Linked DNA regions of Homo sapiens. The protein of the gene in region 3 binds, or shares a complex with, the protein of the main gene of each other region. Each region holds a gene or a part of one and is shown on either strand. Other genes may lie near its edges. The genes, in order: NSMCE4A, NSMCE2, SMC5 and EID3.

Region 1 (7,499 bases), on a different chromosome or scaffold from region 3:
GCATGGTGGTGCACACCTGTAATCCCAGCTACTCGGGTGGCTGAAGCTGGAGAATAGCTTTAACCTGGGGGGGGCAGAGGTTGCAGTGAGCCAAGATCATGCCACTGCACTCCAGCCTGGGCGACAGGTGTAGGTGTTCCCAGACTATTTTTCATACTCTCTGTTGCCTGCAGGGTCTGATTAAGCAACCCCCTCAGCCCCGCTGTTTCCTTTTGTTGATCCCTTCTTTATCTCCCATGAGTATCCTGTGCCTGCCTGCCCCACTCCCTTCCCCTTTCATTTATTTATTTATTTTACAAACTGAGACCATCAAATCCATGAATGCCAGCATCTGTTGTTTGCTGAGCAACTCCTAGGGCTCCAATGAGTGAATAATTTTGCTCTAAAATATTGCTTTAAATACTGGAAATAGCTGAGGGGGGAATGATGTGGGGATAAAGAACTGACTAGATGCACAGTAAATATCAAGGGAGTAATTGAGTCAAGTCAAGCAAGACTAACAGTAAGGAGACTGGGAGTCCAGGCTGCGAAGGGAAGACAAAACTTAAGAGGGTAGTAGAGGGATTTAACCAGGTGAAGGAGAAACACCCGGTTCCTGAAGGTTTTGATGAGAGTTAGCAAATGCGGTAGACTAAGATGGGGAATGGTAAGGAGGCTGTGGTCAAAGAAATTGGAGAGCATATATAAAGTGATAAAAGGAGACATTTAAAGAACTAGTCATCCTCAGCAATGACTAAAAATATACGTTCTAGTCCTTTAAGAATATGAGGAACCAGCCGGGGGCGGTGGCTCATGCCTGTAATCCCAGCACTGTGGGAGGCGGAGGCAGGTGGATTACCTGAGGTCAGGAGTTCGAGACCAGCCTGGCCAACATGGCGAAACCCGTCTCTACTAAAAATACAAAAATTAGCTGGGTGTGATGGAGCACACCTGTAATCCCAGCTACTCGGGACGCTGAGGTAGGAGAATTGCTTGAACCTGGGAGGTGGAGGTTGCAGTGAGCCGAGATTGTGCTACTGCACTCCAGCCTGGGCAACAGAGACTCCATCTCAAACCTCAAAAAAAAAAAAAAAAAGGATATATTTGGCTGCATTCTCCCCTATGTTCCCACAGACCCGTCAGAGAGGGCTGGAGGGGACAGTGGTCTGGGTAGTAGTCCTGTGGCTCTATGACCAAGTACCCACATCAGGGAGTACCCCTCTGTCACCAAGCAGACAGACAGCTGCTACCAATACCACTGCCTCTGCTTTCAATTCAAACTAAGGTTATTTTTTAAAGCACCCATGGCCTAGAGTTCAGTGCTCTGGGATCTCTCTCACTCACTCACTCACACACAACACACCCCAGACTGGAGACCAGCAGGTACACTTGCAGGCTTTGCCACCTCCATTGTGTTACACGTGGACCAATAGCAGGGAGCTGAGGAAGGCAAAACAGAATGGGACAGGAAAAGAAACAGGATTTCAGAGGCTAGCTCAGTTCTGTAATTCATCCACTCAACCAATGTATACTAGGGATACGGCAGTAAACACAAGAAAAAGAAACAAGATAACACATGTAACGTTCTCAAACTTGAAGAGGCAACAGAATCAACTGGGGGCTTAACACAGACTGCGGAACCTACCCCCAAATTTTCATGTAAAGCCCTTATTATATGGTAAGTGCATAATAAAAATGGCATTATTGCTATAATGAAACGGTTCCCGAACTGGGAAAGCACTATTACAAATGTGGGAATTGTTTTATGTCAATAATTTGGCGCTTATGTAACACTAATTAAAAGTATCATAAAACACGAAATAACATATAAAATAACAAATTACCTTCATTAAACAGAGTGTTAGCCTCTTCAAGGACCTCTGTTAATTTGTCACCGGCATTCAGTATGTCCTCACGGTTTTCTATTTTTAAAAATACAAACTTTGGGAAATTTGTTCAGCATTCACTAATAAGCAGTTGACAAGGTTATCACCTGCAACAGTAAAGCCAAGCCCCGGCCCCTGCGCTCTGAGTAATTACTTCGAACATCTTTATCTTTTTAACCAAAATGACCCGGAAAAGGAGAAAGGCCACCCTACCCTTTATGCAGCATGAATTTTAAAAGGAAACCCTAGCTCCCTCTAACCTTAACCCAAAGGGCTGGACTCCGGCTGCAGCCTCTGAGTGCTCCATAACTGAGTGGTTCTCAAACTTTGCAAGCAATACACACCATCACCTGGAGGGCCACTCCACAGTTGCGCGGACCCACCCAGAGATTCGAATTCCGCGGGTCCGGGTGGGGTCCGAGAACGTGCATTTGACAGCTCTCGCGTGCCGCTGCAGCTGCAGCTGCCGCTGCGAGGCCGGGAGCCCACGCCGAGGACTGCCGGGCGCAATCAAAGCACGCGGAGTCCGCGTCCTGCCTCTCCCCACTGGCTGGCTGGGCTCGGGCGAGTCCGCGAACGGCTCTGGCCTCCAGCTTTTCCAGCCCGCCACTCGGGGACCCGCGCCAAGGTCGTACGGCTCCAGCCACAAAGTGGGAGCACTTTGTCAACAATTTAAGGTGCGGCGAGGGGCTGGCACCCGGCGCGTCTCTACTAACGCCGCGCCGGGCCTCCGCCCGGCACCTGCCTCCGGTGCCCTCCCCCCGCGCCCGGCGCAGGGCGGGGACAGCGGCCCGTCCGGGCCCGCGCCGCCCGGAGGCGCCGCCTTACGTTGGACGGAGTTGATGAGCGCCCGGTACTGATGGCGGATCTGGCGGCACAGGCCTTGGTCGGCCTCCGCCTCCAAGCTGGCCGGGTCCATCATCTCGTCCCCGGAATCCGACGGCTCTGTGTCCTCCAGGCTCGGGCGCTCTGGGGCCTCTCTGCGCTCCCGCGCAGAGCCGCGGCGGGACCTGGGCGACAAAGGGGACCGCGAGCGGGAGCGGGAGCGGGTGCGATCCCGATGCGGGTCGCGGCCCCGGCCCCGGCCCTCTGGCCCGCGGCCGCTGCTGTCCCCAGACATAGCGCCAATTCACCGTGCAACTTCGGAACGGCGGAAGTTCGCGCCAGAAACTGAAACCCCTGCTCTGCGCCAGCGCCTGCTCCCGGCGGAACGCGGCTCCCGGGCCCGCGCGAGCGCACAGCGACGCCTGTGGCTGGAGGCCGGCGACGGGCCCGGCCGGGTCTCCAAGGCGCCTGGGGGGACCGCTGGGTGCACAAGAGGGGCCTGGCGGGGATCCTTTGTTCCCTTGACAAGAGGTGTAATGAGCTCTTACTCCACACTGCAGGGCTGTGAGAATCTTGGTTTTCTGCCCCTACTTTCCCACCCTCCTGGACCTGCATCTTCCCTAGGTCCCTTTGCCTGCCCAGGACACAGCCGCAGCCTGGCACCCACATGGGCACGCAGTCCATGTGTGTTGAACGAGCTTCCTGCTGTGGAGCAGGATGAGCGCGGGATGTGGAGTCCAGACGCGGTCTGCTGCTCACCTGCGACCTCAGTTTCCCTGTGCCATCATGGCTGGGGTCGGGGGGGTGGGGAACAGGGGTGGGTGGATGAATCAAATATTTATGTGCAGCTGGCAATACCATTTTTTGTGAGGATAGCAGAACAAATTAACAGGTAAACATCCTTCTAAATATCTACAACAGAATGTCACCAGAGCACCAGGGTTTTGTTCTAGGACCCGCTGCCCCCTCACAGAAATCACTGAGAAAACCATTATTACCAAGGAAGAAGGCTTTAGTAGGGTGCTGCACTCAGGGAGTTGGAAGCTCAGTCTCAAATCCATTGCCCTGACCAACTAAAATTAAGGGTTTATACAGTTGCAGGGAAGCAATGTAACAATGTATGGGAAAAGAGGAACTCGGGAGGGGGAAGGAAGCTATGGGGATGCATGAGGGGCTTGGCATCTCATTGTCTGGAATGCGGTGATATGGCGAGTTTCAGTTTTTTGATACTTTTTGAGAGGCTCTGGAGGTCCTTTCCTGAGGAAGGAACTCAGATAAAACAAAGGTAAGTTTCAACCTTAAGACTAGAAATGATAATTTCTAAGTTTATTAAAAAAATAGTAAACAGTCTATGGGATTGTTGGGTTGATTTTAATGACAGTCTATGTTCACATTTGATTTTTTTTTTTTTTTTAAGACCTTGCTCTGCCGAGGCTGGAGTACAGTGGCACTATCTTGGCTCACTGCAACCCCATCTCCTGACCTCAAGTGATCCGCCCACCTCGGCCTCCCTAAGTACTGGGATTACAAGCATGGGCCACCAGGCACAGCCTGATTCTGATTCTCAAACTAGAAGATTCTAAGAATACCTCCTGAAGGGCCCAAGAAAGATGGAATTATGTTAAGTATACTTTGAAAGATAAATGTATGAATTTCACTCCGTGCATTTTGGATTGTATTCGAGTATTGTTTCCCAAAAGTTGTCTTTGGTGCTAAGAACACATTTTCTCAAAAGACCAATATTATAAGTTGGGTTATTACACAACCTACAAATATTCCATTTTGTGCATCATGTCTACTAAACTTAAGTTAGGCACTGTTCATTGCTGTCCAACAGCTACTACCTCACCCATCCCTGCTTATCTGTATTTCCTGAAGGGGACGTGTGTGCCTACTTCCTTAGATGAAACGTGATCACTCTAACCAGGTCACGGTAATGTCATTCCCCTTCCCCAGTGACTGGTCAAGGGTCATGTGATGCAACCTGGGTCCGTGAGATGTGAAAGGGTTTCCCAACTGGATGGAATACAAACCTTCCTGAAAAGAAAACCCTTGACCCCCTACCCCCTTTGAGATGGCTGGCATAAGAAATGGGGAACCTGCCAATTAGCGGGCATAATGGTGCGTGTCTGTAATCCCAGCTAATCGGGAGGCTGAGGCAAGAGAACTGCTTGAAGCTGGGAGGTGGAGGTTGCAGTGAGCAGAGATCGCGCCATTGCACTCCAGCCTGGGTGACAAGAATGAAACAACGTCTGAAAGAAAAAATGTGGAGCCTGCCATATTGGCAGCATCTGGTACTCACGAGGTGACAAGCATGAGGAAAGACTAGAGTGCTGGAGACACTGGAGAGCAAAGATGGACATGGCTGAATTGCTGAATCAACCACATGCCTCCAGACTCCCTGTAAAGTAAGCCATAAATCATGGTTTAAACCAGGTCATTGTTTCATAGTTGTTGCTTGTAGCTCAGTGTTCTGTAATGGAATACTTAGCGTTCTTCCAGGTGAAAGTGTGTCCAGAATTGGTGGGTTCTTGGTCTCACTGACTTCAGGAATGAAGCCGCGGACCCTCGCAGTGAGTGTTACAGTTCTTAAAGGTGATGTGTCCGGAGTTTTTTCCTTATGATGTTCAGATGTGTTCGCAGTTTCTTCTTTCTGGTGGGTTCGTGGTCTCACTCGCTCAGGAGTGAAGCTGCAGACCTTCACGGTGAGTGTTACAGCTCTTAATGCGGCGTGTCTGGAGTTGTTCGTTCCTCCCGGTGGGTTTGTGGTATTGCTGGCCTCAGAAATGAAGCTGCAGACCTTCACAGTGAGTGTTACAACTCATAAAAGCAGTGCAGACCCAAAGCGTGAACAGCAGCAAGATTTATTGCAAAGAGCGAAAAAATAAAGCTTCCACAGTGTGCAAAGTGAGCTGAGTGGGTTACTACTACTGGCTAGGGCAGCCTGCTTTTATTCTCTTATCTGGCCCCACCCACATCCTGCTGATTGGTCAATTTTACAGAGAGCCGATGGGTCTGTTTTACAGAGAGCTGATTGGTCCATTTTGACAGGGTGCTGATTGGTGCGTTTACAATCCCTGAGCTAGACACAAAAGTTCTCCACCTGTCCACTAGATTAGCTAGATACAGAGTGCTGATTGGTGTATTTACAAACCCTGAGCTAGACACAGAGTGCTGATTGGTGCATTTACAAACCTTGAGCTAGATACAGAGTGCCGATTGGTGTATTTACAATCCCTTAGCTAGACATAAACGTTCGCCAAGTCCCCACCAAATCAGCTAGACACAGAGCGCAGATTGGTGCATTTACAAACCTTGAGCTAGACACAGAGTGCTGATTGGTGCATTTACAAAGCTTGAGCTAGATACAGAGTGCTGATTGGTGTATTCACAATCTCTTAGCTAGACATAAAGGTTCTCCAAGTCCCCGCTAGACTCAGGAGCCCAGCTGGCTTCACCCAGTGGATCCCGCACCAGGGTGGCTGGTGGAGCTGCCTGCCAGTCCCTCGCCCTGCACCCCACTTCTCAGCCTTTGGGCAGTTGATGGGATCGGGCACCCTGGAGCAGGGGGCGGCGCTCATCGGGGAGGCTCGGGCCACGCTGGAGCCCACGGTGGCAGGGGGAGGCTCAGGCATGGCGGGTTGCAGGTCCTGAGTCCTGCCCTGCGGGGAGGCAGCTAAGGCCCGCCGAGAAATGGAGCACAGCGCTGGTGGGCTGGCACTGTTGGGGGACCCCGCGAACCCACCACAGCTGCGGGCCCAGGTGCTAAGCCCCTCACTGCCCAGGGCAGCCGGCCACTCCCGAGTGCGGGCCTGCCAAGCCCACGCCCACAGGGAACTCTAGCTGGCCCGCAAGCACAGCGTGCAGCCCCGGTTCCCCCCGTGCCTCTCCCTCCACACCTCCCCGCAGGCTGAGAGAGCCGGCTCTGGCCTCGGTCCCAGGAAGTGGCTCCCACAGCGCAGCGGCGGGCTGAAGGGCTCCTTAAGCCGGCCAGAGTGGGCGCTGAGGCCGAGGAGGTGCCAAGAGCGAGCGAGGGCTGCCAGCACGCTGTCACCTCTCAAAAGTTCATTCCAAGCTCCACACAAAAATACCTGAAATAGGCCAGGTGCAGTGGCTCACGCCTGTAATCCCTGCACTGTGGGAGGCCAAGGTGGGTGGATCACCCAAGGTCAGGAGTTCAAGACCAGCCTGGCCAACATGATGAAACCCCCGTCTGTACTAAAAATACGAAAAATTAGCCAGGCGTGGTGGTGGGCGCCTGTAATCCCAGCTACTCAGGAGGCTAAGGCAGGAGAATCACTTGAACCTGGGAGGCGAAGTTTGCAGTGAGCCGAGATCATGCCACTGCACTCCAGCCTGGGTGACAGGAGCAAAACTCCATCTCAAAAAACAAACAATGACAACAACAACAAAAAAACCCTGAAATAACTCATTCAATTCAAAAGTATTTGAGGGAGGGCCGGGCGCGGTGACTCATGCCTGTAATCCCAGCACTTTGGGAGGCCGAGGAGGGTGGATCATGAGGTCAAGAGATCGAGACCATCCTGGCCAACATGGTGAAACCCCATCTCTACTAAAAATACAAAAAATTAGCTGGGCATGGTGACGTGCGCCTGTAGTCTCAGCTACTCAGGAGGCTGAGGCAGGAGAATTGCTTGAACCGGGGAGGCGGAGGTTGCAGTGAGCCAAGATGGTGCACCACTGCACTCCAGCCTGGTGACAGAGTGAGACTCCATCTCTAAATAAATAAATAAATAAAAATATTTGAGGTGTACTCATAGGCTAGACACCCTACAAAGCACAGCAGGG
Region 2 (7,038 bases), on a different chromosome or scaffold from region 3:
TGAGCCAAGATCGTGCCATTGCACTCCAGCCTGGGCGACAAGGGCAAGACTCCGTCTCAAAAACTAAAAAATAAAAAATATATATATATATAATTTTATTGCTGTCAATTTGTTGTTTTTTTTTGAGACGGAGTCTTGCTCTGTCACTCAGGCTGGAGTGCAATGGCATGATCTCTGCTCACTGCAATCTCCACCTCCCAGGTTCAAGCAATTCTCCTGCCTCAGCTTCCTGAGTAGCTCAGGTTATAGGCGCCCACCACCACGCCCAGCTAATTTTTGTATTTTTAGTAGAGAAGGGGTTTCACCATGTTGGTTAGGCTGGTCTCGAACTCCTGACCTCAGGTGATCTGCCCACCTCAGCCTCCCAAAGTGCTGGGATTACAGGCGTGAGCCACCGCACCCAACCTTGCTGTCAAAATTTTGAAAAAATATTTGTATAATTTTGCTTTGGAAATAGGTTGGCTACCAGTAACTGATTTAATTTGTAATTGACTATTAGTTTCAGCAATTATCTTACCATACTGGGAAATTTTTATGAAGTTTATGAAGAAATAAATCCAGCCCTACATATTACTTCCAAATTATGTATTTTCGATTACCGGATCAACAATTAATGAAGTTAACTTCACATTTGCATAGACCTTTAACATTTAGTAATTTCAGTACTATTGTTATTCTGTTTTGAAGCCAACCAATGGTTTTTAAGGTCTCAGACGTTTGTTTAGCTCTCTGAAAAGCTGGAAGCCCCGAGGCACTGCACCTTAATGCCCAGTGGTTAAAAATGCTCTGACTGGTTATTCCCAAGCCCTGAGATCTTCACTGCCTTCTTCAAAGAATAAAAGCTGGTTTAGGGGACAGCAAGCTGGCATACAAATATACCAGTCTACTCCAAGAAGGTGACTCTCTAAGAAAAACAAAGTAATTGGAGGCAGAATCCCTGTGTTGCAATTAATTCACCAGGTTACCTTGAACAAGAGCTCTGCAGCCCTTTCCCTGCCCCTCAGTACAGCTTGAGCATCCCTAATCCCAAAATCCAAAACCCACAATGCTCCAAAATCCAAAACTTTTTGAGCACCTACATGACGCCACAAGCAGAAAATTCCACATCTGGCCTCATGCAACAAGTACACATGAGTGTTAAAAATGCTGCATAAAATTAGCTTCAGGCTATGTGTGTAAGCTTTATATGAAACATAAATGAAATTCATGTTTAGTCTTGGGTCCCATCCCCCAAGATATTTCATCATGCTTATGCAAATATTTCAAAGTCCGAAATCCGAAACACTTCTGGTCCCAAGCATTTCGGATAAGGGATACTCAACCTGTAGTGCCTTTGCAAACAAACACCTCATCTGGCCTAGGTGATGGCCCACAGTCATCAGTTCTATGGAACCGAAAGGTATGCCACACCATCTGAACCAGAAACAAGGGCTTCCTCTCACACATTGAGGAAAGCCATTTTTATGTCTGTATTATTTTGCCAAAATTAAAGAAGGAAGGGAAGGGAGAAAAGAGTAGAGAAGGGAAAGGGAAAGGAGAAGGAAGGAGAAAGGACTACACCATCAACATGTTTAGAAAGCTACTGATCTTTTGGCTGGGCCCCGTGGCTCATGCCTGTAATCCCAGCACTCTGGGAGGCCAAGGCGGGCAGATCACCTGAGGTCAGGAGTTCAAGACCAGCCTGGCCAATATGGTGAAACCCCATCTCTACTAAAAATACAAAAATTAGCCAGGCATGGTGTCGTGCACCTATACTCCCAGCTACTCAGGAGGCTGAGGCAGGAGAATCACTTGAACCTGGGAGGCGGAGGTTGCAGTGAGCCAAGATCGCGCCATTGCACTCCAGCCTGGGTGACAGAGCGAGACTCCATCTCAAAAAAAAAAAAAAAAAAAAAAAGCTATTGATCTTTAACTTCTGTGCAAAATTACAAGTATCTTTTCTTCAGAGAGAATGGCTTTCATGTGAGATACTCCCATCATCCCATTCAAATGTTGTCTATCATCTGTTTTTGGTTTGGTTTGGTTTTTCAGTTGGGGGCCAATGGGATGTAACTCAAAGAACATCAGTTTCAGAAGCAGCTCATGCTCTGTTCAAAGCCAGTCCTGTCACTATCACTCAGCAGTTCTCAAAGTGCAGGCCAGGGATCTCTAGGGTGCTCCAAGGGTCTTTCAGAGTGTCCATAAGGTCAAAACTGTCTTTATAATAATAGTATGATCTCATCTGCCTGTTTCACTCTCATTCTTTTCATGAGTGAATTTTCCCAGAGACTACAGGATATGTGATATTGTGACAGATTGAATGCATACGCAGATATCCAAATCCAACTGGCTGCTATGAAGCCAGACATTCAAGATATTTATAAAAATGGAAAACAATGCCATTCTTCTCATTATGTATGTCTGTGTGTATGGGGGGGGGTGTTCTGGAAATATAATTTTAACTTTTAAAATGTTTATGGTAACACGTAGTGGGATTATTACTGTTACTTTTAATTTTTTGGTTTTTTTTTTTTTTTTTTTTTGAGACAGAGTCTCGCTCTGTCACCAGACTGGAGTGAAATGGCAGGATCTTGGCCCACTGCAACCTCCAACTTCTGGGTTCAAGCGATTCTCCTGCCCTAGCCTCCCAAATAGCTGGGACTACAGGCACATGCCACCATGCCCAGCTAATTTTTGTAGTTTTGGTAGAGATGGGGTTTCACCATGTTGGCCAGGATGGTCTCGATCTCTTGACCTCGTGATCCGCCCACCTCAGCCTCCCAAAGTGCTGGGATTAAAGGCGTGAGCCACCGCAACCGGCCTTATTGTTATTTTTTAATGAATTTTAAATTCCTTAATCTTAATGTCTAATATGTTAAATATTGATAAATATAACCCACATAGAAAAAGCTTAAAAGAGTTCATACCTATAACTAAAAAGTTTGAGAAGCCCTGCACTACCTAATTGTAATGACTGTTTATTGATTATTGCTTTGTACCATGAGCTGTGCAAAGCATACCACATTCTTCATCTCTTTTAATCTTTGCCACAAGGCTGTAAAGCAGAGGCTTTAAAAAAGGGCACCTTGCTAGCCCAGCGTCTCACCACTGGACAAGAAAGAGATCACCAGGTCGGTTCTCTGACTCTGAAGCCACACCCTTGGTCACTTTCTCTATAACTTTAAAAAAGATTCTTTTTAACTGCTCTGAGCCTCAGTTTCCTTATCAAAAATAGTCAGAATGAGGTACCCCGTAGTGTTCTCTGAAAAGCAGAAGAGTTTCTATGCATCCAGTCCTTACATGGGGGCCAACAGCAAATGCTCCCCCAGAAACTCTTCACCTCCCTTCCTTCCATTCCTTCCTTTTCTTTGACGTTAGACCAGAGAGGCTTATCAACTCTCCATTTTCCTCTAGGTGGTCTTCAAGCTGACAGAGAAGCTGACGGAACAGAAGGAGTGGATGAAGATATAATTGTGACCCAAAGTCAGACCAACTTCACCTGCCCCATTACAAAGGTACCGCTTCCTCCTACTTCCCCTGAAAGAAACACGATTCACTTCACAGAGGCAGAAAGGTTCCTGTTTGCTTTCTGGTTTGATTTCACTTAGGGAGTTAAGGAGGGAGTAAAGAAAAGTGCTGGGGGTTGAAGAGTATCCACGGGAGGTTCTTGGGCTGGAGAGAGCTGTCAGTCAATCATGCCCTGAAGGATCCGGGACTAAAGTCATGGCCTACAGGCCAAGTGACAGTACTGCCACTGGATTCCCTGCATTTCCTTATCTAAAGCCTAGTAATTATGTAAAGCCATGAGAATGGGAAGTTAAACATAGAAAGCTCAGGACTAGGACGAAACAGCTACTGGAAGTTGATCATTATCATTCCTGAAAGCCCAACATCTCCTTGATTACAGGAGGAAATGAAGAAGCCAGTGAAAAATAAAGTGTGTGGCCACACCTATGAAGAGGACGCCATTGTTCGCATGATTGAGTCCAGGCAAAAGCGGAAGAAAAAGGCCTAGTGAGTGGACGCAGGGAAGGAAGTGGAGCCTTCCCTAGTGGTAGTTACTCAGAGGTGGCGTGTTCACGCTAGAGGAAGAGGCACTTCAATGTCTCTTCTAAATTCCGTTCACCTCCCGAATACTGTAAACATGGAAGTGGGCTTTCTGGAAAAACAATACATGAGGGAAAAATTAGTAATCTGTTCAGGAAGAAGCTGAGGGAACTTCAACCACACCTTCAAAACAGAATAAGGCCAGGCAGGGTGGCTCATGCCTGTAATCCTAGCACTTTGGGAAGCCGAGGTGGGCAGATCACCTGAGGTCAGGAGTTCAAGACCAGCCTGGCCAACATGGTGAAACCCCATCTCTACTAAAAATACAAAAATTAGCCAGGCTTGGTGGCAGGTGCCTGTAATCCCAGCTACTCGGGAGGCTGAGGCAGGATAATCTCTTGAACCCAGGAGGCAGAGGTTGCAGTGAGCCGAGATTGTGCCACTGCATTCCAACCTGGGCAACAGAGCTAGACTCTGTCTCAAAAAAAAAAAAAGGTTTAGGTAAATTCATGGCTAACTCATGAATGATAAATTATTTTTTTAATTGGAAGTTTTGCAGAATCTTTATAAATAGACATAATATATATTATATGTTATATATTGTTTTATATGTATATCATATATTATTTATCTTTAAATATATATAATATACACACACACACATATATATATCTCACCTTCCTTCCCCTTCTTCCATGACCACGGAGGACCATGCTCTGTTCCTGTAATAACATAGAATCCTGAGTTAGCCAGACTGACTGGCATTGACTTCGTTTGGCATTTCTTGTGCTCTTATCATGGATTTGTTGCAGGAATGGAATTGCAGGTGTGACTAGTTCTCAATTGACTTCTGATAACAGTCCCTTTGATGTGTGGCTTGCTTCTCCATTGCCCAGAAATTTGCTGGTCCAGACCTAGAATTGGAATTCCCCAGCACTCCTCATCTGGGTGTGGACTTAGAGATAATATATTGGAGACTAAAGATATCTTGATGGTCATTCAGGCAAATAACTTATCCTATGTATTCTAGAAGAATAGTGGCTTTGCTGCCTAATGGTTGCAAAATGTAGACATTCTTAGTACATTTTGATCTGTTTTGAGTTTTTGAGTTAACAGTTGAAATGTCAGATTTCGGCCAGGCGCGGTGGCTCACACCTGTAATTCCAGCACTTTGGGAGGCCGAGGCGGGTGGATCACGAGGTCAGGAGATAGAGACCATCCTGGCTAACACGGTGAAACCCCGACTCTACTAAAAATAAAAAAAAATTAGCCGGGCGTGGTGGCAGGCGCCTACAGTCCCAGCTACTGGGGTGGCTGAGGCAGGAGAATGGCATGAACCCGGGAGGCGGAGCTTGCAGTGAGCCGAGATCATGCCACTGCACCCAGCCTGGGTCACAGAGTGATACTCTGTCTCCAAAAAAAAAAAAAAAAGAGGGAGGATTCTGGGTTGTTAAATGGCATGCTTTCTTGCTCTTTCTCTTTTTTTTTTTTTTTTTTTTGAGACTGAGTTTCCCTCTTTTTGCCCAGGCTGGAGTGCAATGGCGTGATCTCAGCTTACCACAACCTCCGTCTCCCAGGTTCAAGTGATTCTCCTGCCTCAGCCTCCTGAATAGCTGGTATTACAGGCATGCACCACCACGCCCAGCTAATTTTGTATTTTTAGTAGAGATGGGGTTTCTCCATGTTGGCCAGGCTGGTCTCAAACTCCCGAGCTCAGGTGATCTGCCCGCTTCGGCCTCCCAAAGTGTTGGGATTACAGGCATGAGCCATCGCGCCCAGCCATGGCATGCTTTCATTAGTTTCCTTATCCATAAATGAATGACAATCGTTGTAATCACCTCATTGGCATATTTGAAATTTAAATAAGATACATGCAAAGTACTTAAAGTAGCTGGTACACAGTAGGGCTCAGTAAAATTATCCCATCATCATCTTCAAACTTGAGCCACTATCAACATCCTCTTCGTTTTTTTCCACCATTGCTCTATAGGCATGGGAGACGAGGACAGTTTTAAAGGAGTAAGATGAGCCAACCTGGAGTTTAGGAAGTTACTCCAATAGCAATGCAGAGATGGATTAAGGAGGCATGAGGCAAAAAAAAGTCAGTTAGGATGCTTTTACAGTGGTTTAAGTTATAGAAAATTAGAGTATAGAGATACAAGAGTGATTGTGGAGGTACAGTTAACGACATTTGACGACTGACTGAATGTAAGAGAAAGGAAGAAGCAGCGAGGGGTGGCTGACATTTCTCATCTGGGTGTCTAATACTGTCATTTGCTCATTAGCCTCCAGAGAAGGCATGAGAGAGGAACACTCTTATTGGAGGATTGTGATAGACTCAGCTCAGGTCATCCTAAATGCAAGGTCCCAGCAATACAGCCCCGTGGAAGTGTCCAGGAAGTGCAGCAAGTGTGAGTTTTGCAGTCAGGGGAGGACTCAGAACTATCGATGTGGATTGGGAGGTTATCAGTATAGACGAGTCAACCCGCTCAACTACCGTCACAGATGCAGCTCTGGAACAAATGCATTCACCAGCAGAGAGCCAGCAAGGCAGGACCCGCACCTCGCCTGTGATCTCCACAAGGCCAGAGCCCGACTTCGTTCTGCTCACTGTGATGCCTTAGCACCCTGGTGCCAACCCTCAAAAAACACTTTGTTGACCAATGAGAGGATCAATCAGCGGAAGAAGACCCCTAAAAAAGCAGTCTAAAATATAGCCAGGAGCCAGGAAGAGTGATAAGGAGTGGAGGCTCATGGGAACTTGTGGGCGGGGTGGGCAGGGTTCTGAAGGCCAGGTGCATTTGGGCAGCAGTAGATTAGAACTCAGGGCCTTCTTGAAACCAACTCCAGAAGTTTCTGATGAAGCATGAAGTCGTATCATTTCCCATGATGCACATTAGAGTGATGAGTATTTCTGGGTTCGCTTTGTTTAGAAATGTCCATGACACATTGTCTCATTTCTTCCTCCTAGATTGTTCTAGTTATGTTTGTTTTTTTAGACTGGAGTTCCAG
Region 3 (7,038 bases):
AATATTCCAACAGCAACAGTCTCTAAAAATCACCTAAATAATGTGCATATTTATGTGTAAAGGATTAAAATTATATATACCAAGGATGGTCAACTGGTTTCATCATAAACATCAACTCTAGTCTATCAAAAATAGCTGCCAAGAATGGCCAATTGAGAATATCCAAGCTCAAGGGAAAAGAATACTATGATGAATTATTGGTGTCATAAGGGAGAAAATAAAAAATGGTGACAGAAGTACCAAGTCCTTGTCATACATGAGATTCATCAAACTATTAGCAGTAGTTATTTATAGAATTAGGAATGATGGCAAGAAGGCTTTTATTTTCAACATTATACACTTCTACATTGTTTGCGTTTTTTAAAGACAAGCAAGTATTACTTTCAAGATCAGCAAAAAAAAAAAAACCCAGATACTTTAAATTTGTGAAAAATATTGCAACTTCATCATGACTACTTAATAGTAGTATAGTTCTATTTCATTACCTGCTATAAACTTATCATTTCCTTGATAATTTTTTAAAATAAAATTCTCACAAGTTTTTTTTTTGGGGGGGGCAGGGGGCATGGGCAGAGTCTAGCTCTGTCTCCCAGGCTGGAGTGCAGTGGCGCCATCTCGGCTCACTGCAACCTTTGCCTCCCAGGTTCCAGCAATTCTCCTGCCTCAGACTCCCCAGTAGCTGGGATTACAGGCATGTGCCACCATGCCTGGATAATTTTTCTATTTTTAGTAGAGACGGGGCTTCCTCATGTTGGTCAGGCTGGTCTCCAACTCCTGATCTCAGGTGATCTGCCCACCTCGGCCTCCCCAAAGTGCTCAGATTACAGGCATGAGCCACCATGGCTAGCCTACAATTTAAGTTTTTAAAATATATTTTTTAAACCCCTTACTTATCTGGATTAAGTATTCTTTAAATATTATTTCCAATATTTATGCCATAATACTATATTAATACTCTTTTCTAATCATCAGGAAAACATGAATATAAACTAAGAATTTTATAGGAAAAAGGAGTTTTAGCACTTTTAACACTTACAATTCAATTTCAACCATGCCTCTAGAACATCCTCTCTTCACAAAAAACCCAACCTAAGACATAAAAAAGAAAAAGTGAGCTGTGTAGTGACATTCCCAGGTTAACAATCAGAGATTTAGCAGTCATTATTATTTGTCAAATCAAGATTTTTTTCAGGTACCACTTGTATGTTCGCTCCTGTCACTTTCTAAGGTATCTCTCCCAGATCTGGGTTCCTCCATTGTTCCCTCCCACAAATAACAACAATAATAATATTAGGTAAGATTTATCGAACTCCTATGCACTCCATAGCCTCTTACCAACCTCGTGACAAAGCCAGTAAGTGCCAGAAAAACGATCTGAACCCAGGAAATCTTGGCTCCAGAGCCTGTGTACTTGTCCACTATATTAAACACCCAGACAGAAGAGAAAATGCCTGTGGGAAAACAGGTCCTATAGTATAACCACTAAGCACTCAAAGCTTCTTATTACCATTGAAGACTTCCTACAGTCGCGCAGGTTAAATATTAACAACCACGCTAATATTACCTATCCTGTTAATGATATAATTGCCACCAAGCATCGTTCTAAAAGGAGCAATATAATTGAAATTTACATGATAAAGCAGACATATCTGTGCTAGTTTCTATATGCTTATGAGTCTAAGTCCGAAAACAAAGTCTGAGCCTAAAAAAATCAGACTGGATCTTAAATCAGGCTATAAATAAGTGATAAATATTAAAAAAGGTAGAAAATATACCTCACAAATAGTAATCTTTTTAATAGTGATAATGACAGTGATGACAACAGCTAACATTTATCAAGCATTTACTATATACTGTTGTGCTAAGCACTAAACATGTATTTTTCTCATTTAATACTCATAAGCAACCTTGAAGTATACATTCATTTTATAGACAATAAAGCTGAGTCCCAGAAAGATGGGAGAAAAAAAAAAAAAAAAGCCTTATCTTGTAACCACCAAGTACAGCCTAATGCTTAAAAGTACAGGTTTTAACATCTACTATCTAGGTTCAAATCTCAACTCCACCACATACAAGTTGTTAAACATTGGACAGTTACTTAACCTCTCTGTTTCCTCACAGGAAAACCAAGGACATCCATGTAGGAATGACATCTGCTCATTAGCTTGCAAGAATTAAAAGACTTGGTACCAATGAGGAGGAAACAAAAATCAGGAGGCAGTTCTTATTATAAAGTATCCATACAGATGGTGTAGAGTATGTTTTTGTTAAATTTTTATATTAGCATTTAAACAAAAATACATTAAATATTCTTGCTGAGAACTTGGGCATCCCATAAATACATCTGTGTACCCAAAGGGCTGCAATCTGTCATCTAGGAAACACTGCACTCCACAGCCTCCCTTAAAAATCCTATCACTCAAGGATGAGATGTGTTTTCATGACAAAAATCAACATGAGAAAGTTAGTAAAAATTGTTATAGCCAATTCAGTCCTACTGTACAGCCCCTGGAGTACAATCCAACAGACGATTACAAAGAGATAGGGATTAAATGATCTGACAATTAAAAAACTATATATCAATATTCATAAAAATCTGAGTTGGTCCTTGGATGCTATCTGTTCCAACTCTCTCATCTTTGAAATGAAGAAAAACTGAAGTCCAGATAATTGCTCAAGGTCACAAGGCTAGTTATTAACAGAGAAAAGTATCTTCTACCTGATAAATGTCTTCCATATAGCACTAAACACACACACACACATTTTAAATAATTTATAATCTTAAGGGGAATTTGCTTCCATTTTGTAACCATCCATTAACTTTTAATTTTTTTTTTATTATTTCTATCTTAATAGAAATAGGATATGGTCTACGTGGTGTCCATTTTTTGAAATTTTTTGATACTTGCTTTATGACTCAGTATACAATTAACTTTTAGAAATGTTAACTTGTGCTTGAAAAGAATGCATACTCTCCAGTTGTTGAGTGCACTTTTTATAATATGTCCATTAGTTCAAGCTTAACTTCATTGTTCAAATCTTTTGTAGTCTAATTTTTTTATCTGACTGGTCTACTATTATTGATAGCTCTCCCAGTATGATTATGGATATGTTAACTGCTTGTTAGCATTCTGCAGATTTTGCCTATATATTTTGGAGCTAGATTATAATGTGAATTTGAGTTGGGAATCGAATTATCTTCCAGTGAATTAAAACTTTCGTCAGTGTTTAATGACCACTATTATCTATAAAATACTTTTTGCTCTAAAGTCTGTTTTTCCTAGTATTAATGCAGCTACATCTACTTTCTTTTGCATATTTGCCTGGCATGTATTTTTTTTCATCCTTTCACTCTCAACTTTTCTGTAGCACTTTATTTTAGATATGCTTATTAAAAACAAAAGAGAACTAAACATTGTTTCATTTCTCCATTCTAACAGACTTTATAATTTAATGAGAGTTTAGAGTTTAGATCATTTATAATCATTGTGATTATATCTGCACATATTTCTACCATCTTATTTTGTGATTTTTATTTTATTTATTTTTCTTGAGACAGAGTCTCACTCTTGTTGCCCAGGCTGGAGTGCAATGGTGCGATCTTGGCTCACTATAACCTCCGCCTCCTGGATTCAAGCAATTCTCCTGCTTCAGCCTCCCTAGTAGCTGGGATTACAGGCACCCGCCACCATGCCTGGCTAATTTTTGCAGTTTTAGTAGAGACGGGGTTTCACCATGTTGACCAGGCTGGTCTGGAACTCCTGATCATGGCCTCCCAAAGTGCTGGGATTACAGGCATGAGCTACCGCACCCAGCCAATATTTTGTCATTTTTAATGATCTCATTTTTTGTATCTGTTTCTTATCTCCTCCTCCTCCTCCTTTCTCAAGACTCCCTCTGGATTGTTCGGGCAGTATTTTTCCGCCCCCCACTCTCATGAATATGGTTAAGTGCCCTACGCAGGTGTACCATTTTTATCTTTTACACTGTATTTTTACTGTACCTTTTCTATATTTAGAGATGTTTACATAAGTACAGTGTAGGCCATTGTGTTACAATTGTCCACAGTATTCAGTACAGTAACATGCTCTACAGGAGTGTAGTCTAGGAGCAATAGGCTACACCATATAGCCTAAGTGGATAGTAGGCTAACCCATCTAGGTGTAAATATTCTCTATTATGTTCACACAATGACAAAATTGTCTAATGATGCATTTTCTCAGAATATATTCCCATCATTAAGCAACATATGACTGGATTTTGTTTCTGCCCTTTGTAAGTTTACTTCACTGTTCCACAAGCCAAGTGATGCATTTAAAAAAAAAGACATATTACATTATTTCTAGCATTTTAGGTGTAAGAGACTTGAAGAATCCTCTAGTATTATGATCCAAAATACTTCTAGAAATGAAAATCTCCTTCTAGCTTCTCTACCTGCCAAATTTATTCCTTGTATTCATGCACTATTAAGTTTGCTATACCCAAGGAACTGAGGTGTAGAAATTGATGTTACTAAAAGCAATTAATAGGTTTGAAATTTCTTAAAAAGTAATTATATTAACTCACCTTATCTGCTCGTCCCATGAAAGCAGGTTTTCCAGCTAAACCAAGGCAAATGGCACACACAATGCTCGACTTCCCTGTTCCATTGGCTCCAACGATCATATTCAAGTGGGGTCCAGGAGATACTTCACAAATATCATATGTTCTGAATTATAAAGAGATGAAATTATTAAGGAGAGATACAAAACCACTTTTCCTTGCTTTACATTATCTATGAGCTTCCTCAAATTCCTTTAAAAACTAGCTAACCTTACAAATTTAATGTTTTTTTATAGGTTTTTAATAAACAACTTTAGAAAGAATACCAATAGAAGAAATGAAAAGGCAGTAATGCATAACTAAAGAATATAATTTCATATACTTTTTTCAAAAGTCTGCTGAAGAAAGTGAAGTTTGATACCTTGTTCTTTTTTAATAATTACAAAACACTGGACACTATATCAAAGATACTACACAAAATAACTTTAAAACAAATTTTATAGGAGACGCCACGGCTTACCTTGAATCTGTGAATTTTACATTCATATTTCTTTTAAATTATAATGCTTAATGGTTATTCATATTTTAATATTTCAAACAATCTAAGCAGATTTTTAATTACAAAACTGAAGATATATCTCAACCCAAAGGTTTCATTTTATTAACTTTTAAAAATTATTTTCCAAGCCAGGCACCATGGTATGTGCCTATAGTCCCAGCTACCAGGGAGCCTGAGGCCAGGGTACTACTTGAGCCTAGGAGGTCAAAGCCAGCCTAGGCATCATAGAGAGACACTGCCCTACAAAACAAAAGTTGAAAGCTGACTAGCACTCTAATTATAGTTAGCATCTAATCTTTATTAGTTGCTAGGGACAGTTATGACAAAATGTGAAGCAAACTCTGACTCAGACATTCTTTTAACTCGCCTTTGAATACTCTGAATTTGAACCCATAAAGTGTCCTTTGTCCACAGCATTTCAGTTAGCTCTCAGGTAGCTGCCAACTAATTCCTCATGAATAAATGCTTAGCCTGCTATTCATCTGCTAAGTATATAAATAACCAAGCACACACATTAATATTTTAAGAAATTAATGATTTTGAAATGTCGGGTGGTAATAAAAATACAGGTGGCAAAGACGTATTTTCTGGCAGGTTTGCTAATCCCACACCTCTACACAGCATCTACTACTTTATCTTTTTAGCTGTTTTGTTCTGCTAGCAGCTGGGTTTCAAAAGAGCCCTTTATTATGGTTACAATAAAACTAGTTTGGGAACTTCAGACATGTAGGAAATTACCTGACATGGAACTTCTTACGCTCAACACATGAAGCCCCACTTGGATTTCCTGTTGTGAAATCTCTGTGTAAATGTTATACTAAAACGATGAAACTGGTATTTAAGAAAACAGAACAGGGAAAAGCATGAGAATTTCTGGCCTATAAAATACGCATCGATATTACAAATAGGGACAGTTGCCAAAAACAAAGCCTCTGCAATTTTTTTTTTTTTGGCGGGGGTAGGCGGGGGATTTTTCTTGCCTTTAGCTACCCAGATCAAGTGTCTGCACTGTTTAAAATCAATCTTCTGATTCTACGATGTATTTATTGGGAATTCCCTTATCATGAGTTTCCTTTCCTCTGAGCTCCCTCTGAAAGAGCTATTGGTAAAGACCCACCCTCTTATCATTCCATATACTTCACGAGGTATCTCATGTATTCTCTATGGCCTCAATGATTCCTTTTTTTCTCCAAGTCTTTGCATACTATCTACATGCTGAAAGCAGTCCAGATGACCTCTATATGCAATGGTCACCTCAATAACGCTATTTGAATGTCCCATAACAGTCATCTTAAACTTAACACATTTAAAACGAAATCCACCATCTTTCCCATCCAAAACCACTCTTGTGGTCTCTTAGTGAATGGTATTATCATTCATGCCATTGACCAAATCAGAAACCTAGGCATTAGTTTTGCATCCTCTTTGGTTCTTTCATCTCTTTTGACTCCACCCAAACCACCACTCCATCATCCAATCAATCACCAAGTGATGCTGGTAGAATTGTAAATCTGATGTCACTTGTTAAAAAAGAAAAATTAAGGAAAAACCCATCACAGCCGAGTTTCATCTTTTTCTACTTTTTATCTCCTTTCCCTATTCTCTCCTTAGACCTCTAAATTCTACCTATAATGTACTTCTTTCAGTTTTGTGACTATAATTCCTTATTGCTCTGAAGTATTTGCACATGTTATTCCTTCAGCCTCCAAGTGTCTTCCTCCACTCCCAACTCCATTTGACTTGGTTCACTCACTACTCTCTTCCAGGCCATTTACATTCTCTAACTACCCATCTTATTTCCTTGCTAATTCTCTAAGCGCATCTTTCTCTACCTCATGCCTAAAACTCAAAATCCCCTCATTAAAATAAACAGCATCTCACCAACCTCTGCACTTCCAGCTACCTTCTCTTTCTTCTCTTTGCATCCGGCCTGCAAA
Region 4 (5,782 bases), on a different chromosome or scaffold from region 3:
CAGGATATTAATAGATGAAGTTATTCAATTGTTGCCCAGCTTATCAAATATAATAGTTTTTCCATAAATCTAATGGTCCTCTCGTGCCTAACTTCTAACAATTCCATGCATTTGACCTTGCTATTCTCTTGCCTAGAATGCCTTTTCCTTCTTCGTGTTTCTACTCACCTTTCACCCTTAGCTGATACCTCAACTACTACAGCAGAGACACTACTTTTGCTGAGTACAATAACAGAAATTGTTTAGAATATGGATACTCACTCATAAATCCTAAGTCTTCCTTGCAATGACTTTTTTAGTCTTAATGTTGCATATTCACTGCCTTACAGACAGGTTTTTTTTTTTAACTTTTGTTTTTTACCCACTCTTTGCCCAACCTGGTTAGGAACCCTTTCTGGGATTCTCTTGGTTCCCTATGACAGAGAAAGCAACGCATCACAGAGCATCATCACTGATTTTCGTAAATTATTATGTTTTGCAAATTATCAAATATCCCTTAATTTGGTATCCAAAACTTGTTTTTATTAATAGTCTTAAAGGGCATTCAATAAAACGTTCCCATAAATATGCCAGTGAATTTGTTTTAATAACAGAAGATCATGACCTTATAAATTACTAAGAAAAATATGCTGCACAGTAAAACAATGTCTGATGTTCTTGAAAATACTTTTTCACTTTACAAGAGATACAATATGTGCTTCAGTTTACATTTTACTCTCCATCTAACTTCAGAAAAAAAACACAAAAAGGATGCTATACTAAGAAATCTTTAGTATGAGGAGTATGTAATCATAGCCTCAGAAATTTCAAAAGCTGCCACAATGTTTTTCCACTCCTGTAAAGTCAAAGATATAACTCCCTGTTTCCTGCCATGGCAACTGGAATCATTTCCCTCACCCATTTGGTTAACATTCATCGGCTCTAATATTGGCAGCCTGTCTTCATCAAGCCTTATTCTTGCAAAACCATCTCTTACAATAAAAGAAACATAAAATATATTCTCCACAGTACGAGAAAAAGAGTTTGGATCAATCACAAACTCAAAATAGGACACAGGAGTATCAGGATACTTTCGAAAGTAGGTTTGCAACAATCCCAAAATCCTTTCTACGTTTTTTTCTGTCGCTTCTGGATAACTACTCAGGTCCAACTTCTGCAACTTTGTAGGCATGTTGCCATTTTCTTCCATCTTGCGAACTTTTTTCTGGTGTTCAAGTCGGGGCTTTGGTGCAGAACGTTCTAGCTTGAATGAACCAAAAACAAAATGGAATGTCTCAGCTTTTACCATCCAGGATGTTGCTTCCTTTTCTATTGCCTTCCAGAAGGAAAGAGCTATGCTATCATCACAATCACTCAACTTGTCAGGATCGCCTTCCATCCAATTCAGACCCACGAACAGAAACAGAAAGTCACAAAATGCTAACTGATTAAAGAAGTTCATATCTGAGTTTAACTGCTTTGCCTTTTCTTTACCCAAATCAGAAGCCATAACAAGAAACCGGGCGTCGAGGGCTGCTTCTCTGGTTCGGCTCACGCCATCAAAGAGGACGTTGGCTTCCTCCAGAGCCTCGGTTAAGGAGTTGTTCGCCGAGCTCACGATGTCCTCCCGGTTCTGCCGCACGCAGTACATGAGCTGCCGGTACTGCCTGCGGATGCTGCGGCACTTCTCCTCGTCAGCGGTGAGCTCCAGGAGCTTTGGGTCTACGTCGGCCTCCCCAGAGCTGAGGTCGTCGGAGCAGCCCGCGGCCCTCACTGACACATCCATCTTCATCAGCGCTCCCTCCGCCGCCGCCTACTTCGCCGCGTACTCGCTACCGGGGATGATCACGAGCTGCTCCTCTCCTTTCTCTTCGTCTCCCTTCCGGGAAGCTTTTTCAACCAACATGCCGGCCACGGGTATCTCTGAGGTAACGGCCCTCCCAGCGTGTGGAAAGTGGCGGCAGTTAGAGCCGAGGACGCCCGCCCATGCGCACTAGCGGCCCGGCCCGGCGCGACCCGCCCCCAGCACGCTCCGCGGGAAGACAGCCCCGCCCCGGCCCGGCCCAGCCACAAGCCGAGGCGCTCGCTCATAGACCAGCGCGGCGCTCCCAACACGCGCAATGATGGGCCCTGACCTCACACGCGACTAATGCCCGCTCAGGGGACAGCTATTCTTTTTCAAAGCGTTTACCGACTGGATCACCTCACTTTAAAAAAAAACACTTTTGGACAACTTTACACAAAACTATTGAGGAGACTAAAGGTCCTGCGCTTTAAAACGCTCGCTGCCATCATATACTGCAGTGAGGTCGACCTGGTTTTGGTTTTTTGTGAACTAAATCTGGCTGGACTGTAAACCGTCGGTAAGGCCAAGGACCGTGAAAAGCAGAAACTCCATTAAGCAGGCTAAACTCTCAGTTCTTTTGCAAGGTGGTGTTTGGACTCATTATACAAATGTAAATCGGGTTAATTACTTTCACATGTCCTCTTAAAAACCAAGCCCCCTCCAATACCCATCCTGAGTATCTGTGGGATCGGGGGAGCCTCCAATATCCGTGCTAACCCCTGCAGGAAACTGGGTGCTGGGCACGGGCATTACTCAGGTGAACTTTGGTTCTCCACTACCCAGGAGTGGAAGAATAGAATGGGTAGAGATCTCTGCAAAAGAGCTATTTACTTGGAAGCTTGCCAACAGCTAAAGGCCACCGACACTGAATGGGTAGTAACTCTGAACCCTAAAAGGTGGGCAAAGCTATGAAAATTTCAGATACAGTCTAAGGATATGAAAGCTTAATCTGTAAACTGGGTGAGTAATCTGCGTGGGAAAATTTACCCATTGGATTTAATGGGGTCACTGGAAACTCAAGTGCAGTTAAAGACGTGACTCCTTATCTGTCTCACCAGCAGCAAATAGCAAAGTATACATAACAATGGGAATGGCCGGGCGCGGTGGCTCACGCCTGCAATCCCAGCACTTTGGGAGGCCGAGGCGGGCGGATCACGAGGTCAGGAGATCGAGACCATCTTGGCTAACCCGGTGAAACCCCGTCTCTACTAAAACTACAAAAAATTAGCCGGGCGCGGTGGCAGGCGCCTATAGTCCCAGCTACTCGGTAGGCTGAGGCAGAAGAATGGCGTGAACCCAGGAGGCGGAGTTTGCAGTGAGCCGAGATCGGGCCACTGCACTCCAGCCTGGGCTATAGAGCGAGACTCCGTCTCAAAAAAAAAAAAAAAAAAAAAGGGAATGAATACATCTGGTTTTTAAAGAGAACATGCACACAAACAACCCATGAGCATCAACAGCTTTTCAAACCTGCAACAGGTACACCTTAAAAAAAAAAAGACACCCACAATTGCACCTGTCCAATTGCCAGTTTCATAGCACCAGGAAGTAAATTAGCCCTACCTTCCTTTATGCATATAGACTTGTTCTATTTCTTTAGCATTAGCAGAAAGTTTTTTGTAAATGTATAAACAGCAAAATCTAGTAGTATTAAGTTACTCCAAAATCCTTATATTACCATTTGCTCCCAATTATTTTATTAACTAGGGGTAATTCAGGGAGATACGTGCATTTTTCAAAACACCATGCATTACGGTTAGTTGTACATATATATGATCCTACCCTATTAGATTGTTGGCTTCTCAAAAACAAAAGCTGCGTTTTAGATCTTCCAAACATAGCTGTTTTTACACGGAGATGCACTTATGTACTGAATGTATAACTTAAAATAGATTTAAAACTATCCCAGCATCTACTGCAAGTTATTTGGCAGCAAAGATTTAAGTTCACAGATTCGTGGAATTAATCCTACACACTGAAAGGAAAAGTTGACTGCTCTTCAGAAAAAGTTCTTATCCCTCTTCTAAAATAAAGGAAAAATGAAAGAAAGGTAAGTTGAGACCCAGGATCATTCAAGGATCGTATCTGTCCCTAGTCTGGCCAATTACAAACTAGTATTTGAACTTGTTTTAAATCTTAGGTGAAAATACAGTTAAGAATTCCAAGACCCAAATCCAAAAAAGTCTGCTTTTACAGTGAACGATATTCTTAGGAGCTTCTCACATCCACTTTAAATTCAACAAAAGCAGCCGGGCACGGTGGCTCACGCCTGTAATCCCAGCACTTTGGGAGGCTGAGGCGGGCGGATCACGAGGTCAGGAGATCAAGACCGTCCTGGCTAACACGGTGAAACCCCGTCTCTACTAAAAATACAAAAAATTAGCCGGGCGTGGTTGCAGGCGCCTGTAGTCCCAGCTACTCTGGAGGCTGAGGCAGGAGACTAGCCTGAACCCAGGAGACGGAGCTTGCAGTGAGCCAAGATCGCGCCACTGCACTCCAGCCTGGGCGACAGAGCGAGACTCCATCTCAAAAAAAAAATTCAACAAAAGCTACTTACAAAAGAACTCTAACAGATAAGCCAACCCTTCCCACCCTATGGTGCCTATTTTCTTCTGGCTCAGAGGAAGGAAAATAGGCTGACACCAATTTGCTACATAAAGACCCTTTCATCTAAGAATTTCAAAATGCCTTAGAAAACTATATTCTCCCAACCTGCTTATAAAGTATTACTAATACCATTTACAGGGATTTCTCAGGAGATAACAGCCCACACAACTTGCTCAGAGCAACAGAGCATATCGAGGCAAACATTAAGTTGTGATTTACAGTGCTGAATGCATTCTATGCTAGATCTCCAAGAACTTTATTAACATGTAACTTAGATCATCCTAAGAAAGGCAGACTTGCATTATGTTCCACCTTTAAAAATCTGCCTTTAGGCCAGGTGCGGTGGCTGACACCTGTAATCCCAGCACTTTGGGAGGCCGAGGTGGGTGGCTCACCTGAGGTCAGGAGTTTGAGACCAGCCTGATCAATATGGAGAAACCACGTCTCTACTAAAAATAGAAAATTAGCTGGGCGTGGTGGCACATGCCTGTAATCCCTGCTACTTCAACCTGGGAGGCAGAGGTTGCGGGTGAGACAAGATTGCACCATTGCACTCCAGCCTGGGCAACAAGAGCGAAACCCCGCCTCAAAAACAAAACAAAACAAAACAAATCTGCCTTTAGACATTGCTACAAAGTAAAACAATCTCAAGTTCAATAACTCTCCCCAATCATATAAAGAATGGGATTTCCATGCCGGTTAATCTTTAAGTCATTAAACAGTGATTTCCTAACCTAAGGTCCAAGTGCTACTAATAATTATTTAAATGAAGCTTAAAAAGAAGAAACTGCACTACTGATAAATTTGTCTGTGACCAGGAATAGAAAGCAAGAAGCGCACTGGTACTTCAAAGAAACCAGTGGCGTCTACCTTATTCCCGCAGTATAGACTAGTTCAGGCAACCATGAGACTGAGTTGCCTCAGAGATAATTTAGCTCCCCTCTTTCCCCTTTTTCCTCTTTCTTCGCTCAAGAGTTGCTACCCAGGGTTCAATACAGACCTCCATTTCCTTTCCTCTTTTCTTCACCCTTTTCTCCTATATTTTCAGTTCCTTTTCTAGGAGTTTAGGTTAATTCCAAGCATTCTTGAGCTCTTTCCCACAACCCATACTGCTCAACACAAACGTGATAGGGTGGATGACAAAGGTCACATGTCTCCCTGTAACCAAATAAAGGAAGAAGTCACGAGTCCACTATTTTTCTCCAGTGAGGTTTTGCTGTTAACACTTACCTATAACAAATGGATTTTTAAGAGACTTTTTGGAGCCAAAGCCAGGAATCAGTCAGGTTTGAGTCCCACACTCTAACATATACACTTATCCTAATAGCTACCTCCCTAAACTTTTCTGTTCCT

The links.
Region 1: SMC5 (region 3) and NSMCE4A share a complex: the UniProt entries of both Homo sapiens proteins name them as parts of the SMC5-SMC6 complex.
Region 2: SMC5 (region 3) and NSMCE2 share a complex: the UniProt entries of both Homo sapiens proteins name them as parts of the SMC5-SMC6 complex.
Region 4: SMC5 (region 3) and EID3 share a complex: the UniProt entries of both Homo sapiens proteins name them as parts of the SMC5-SMC6 complex.

Annotation. Positions count from the first base shown.
Region 1 is NC_000010.11:121,972,181-121,979,679, forward strand, and holds the start of NSMCE4A (non-structural maintenance of chromosomes element 4 homolog A), read right to left. Parts: upstream 3,038-7,499; 5' UTR 2,986-3,037; coding exon 2,694-2,985; exon of another isoform or gene 2,687-2,693; intron 2,626-2,686; exon of another isoform or gene 2,126-2,625; intron 1,902-2,125; coding exon 1,824-1,901; intron 1,650-1,823; exon of another isoform or gene 1,343-1,649; intron 1-1,342. UniProt on the Homo sapiens protein: Component of the SMC5-SMC6 complex, a complex involved in DNA double-strand breaks by homologous recombination. The complex may promote sister chromatid homologous recombination by recruiting the SMC1-SMC3 cohesin complex to double-strand breaks.
Region 2 is NC_000008.11:125,353,826-125,360,863, forward strand, and holds part of NSMCE2 (E3 SUMO-protein ligase NSE2), read left to right. Parts: intron 1-3,393; coding exon 3,394-3,494; intron 3,495-3,886; coding exon 3,887-3,993; intron 3,994-7,038. UniProt on the Homo sapiens protein: E3 SUMO-protein ligase component of the SMC5-SMC6 complex, a complex involved in DNA double-strand break repair by homologous recombination. Is not be required for the stability of the complex.
Region 3 is NC_000009.12:70,261,974-70,269,011, reverse strand, and holds part of SMC5 (structural maintenance of chromosomes protein 5), read right to left. Parts: intron 4,709-7,038; coding exon 4,567-4,708; intron 1,090-4,566; coding exon 1,037-1,089; intron 394-1,036; exon of another isoform or gene 1-393. UniProt on the Homo sapiens protein: Core component of the SMC5-SMC6 complex, a complex involved in repair of DNA double-strand breaks by homologous recombination.
Region 4 is NC_000012.12:104,299,924-104,305,705, reverse strand, and holds EID3 (EP300-interacting inhibitor of differentiation 3), read right to left. Parts: upstream 1,968-5,782; 5' UTR 1,772-1,967; coding exon 770-1,771; 3' UTR 501-769; downstream 1-500. UniProt on the Homo sapiens protein: Tissue-specific component of the SMC5-SMC6 complex, a complex involved in repair of DNA double-strand breaks by homologous recombination.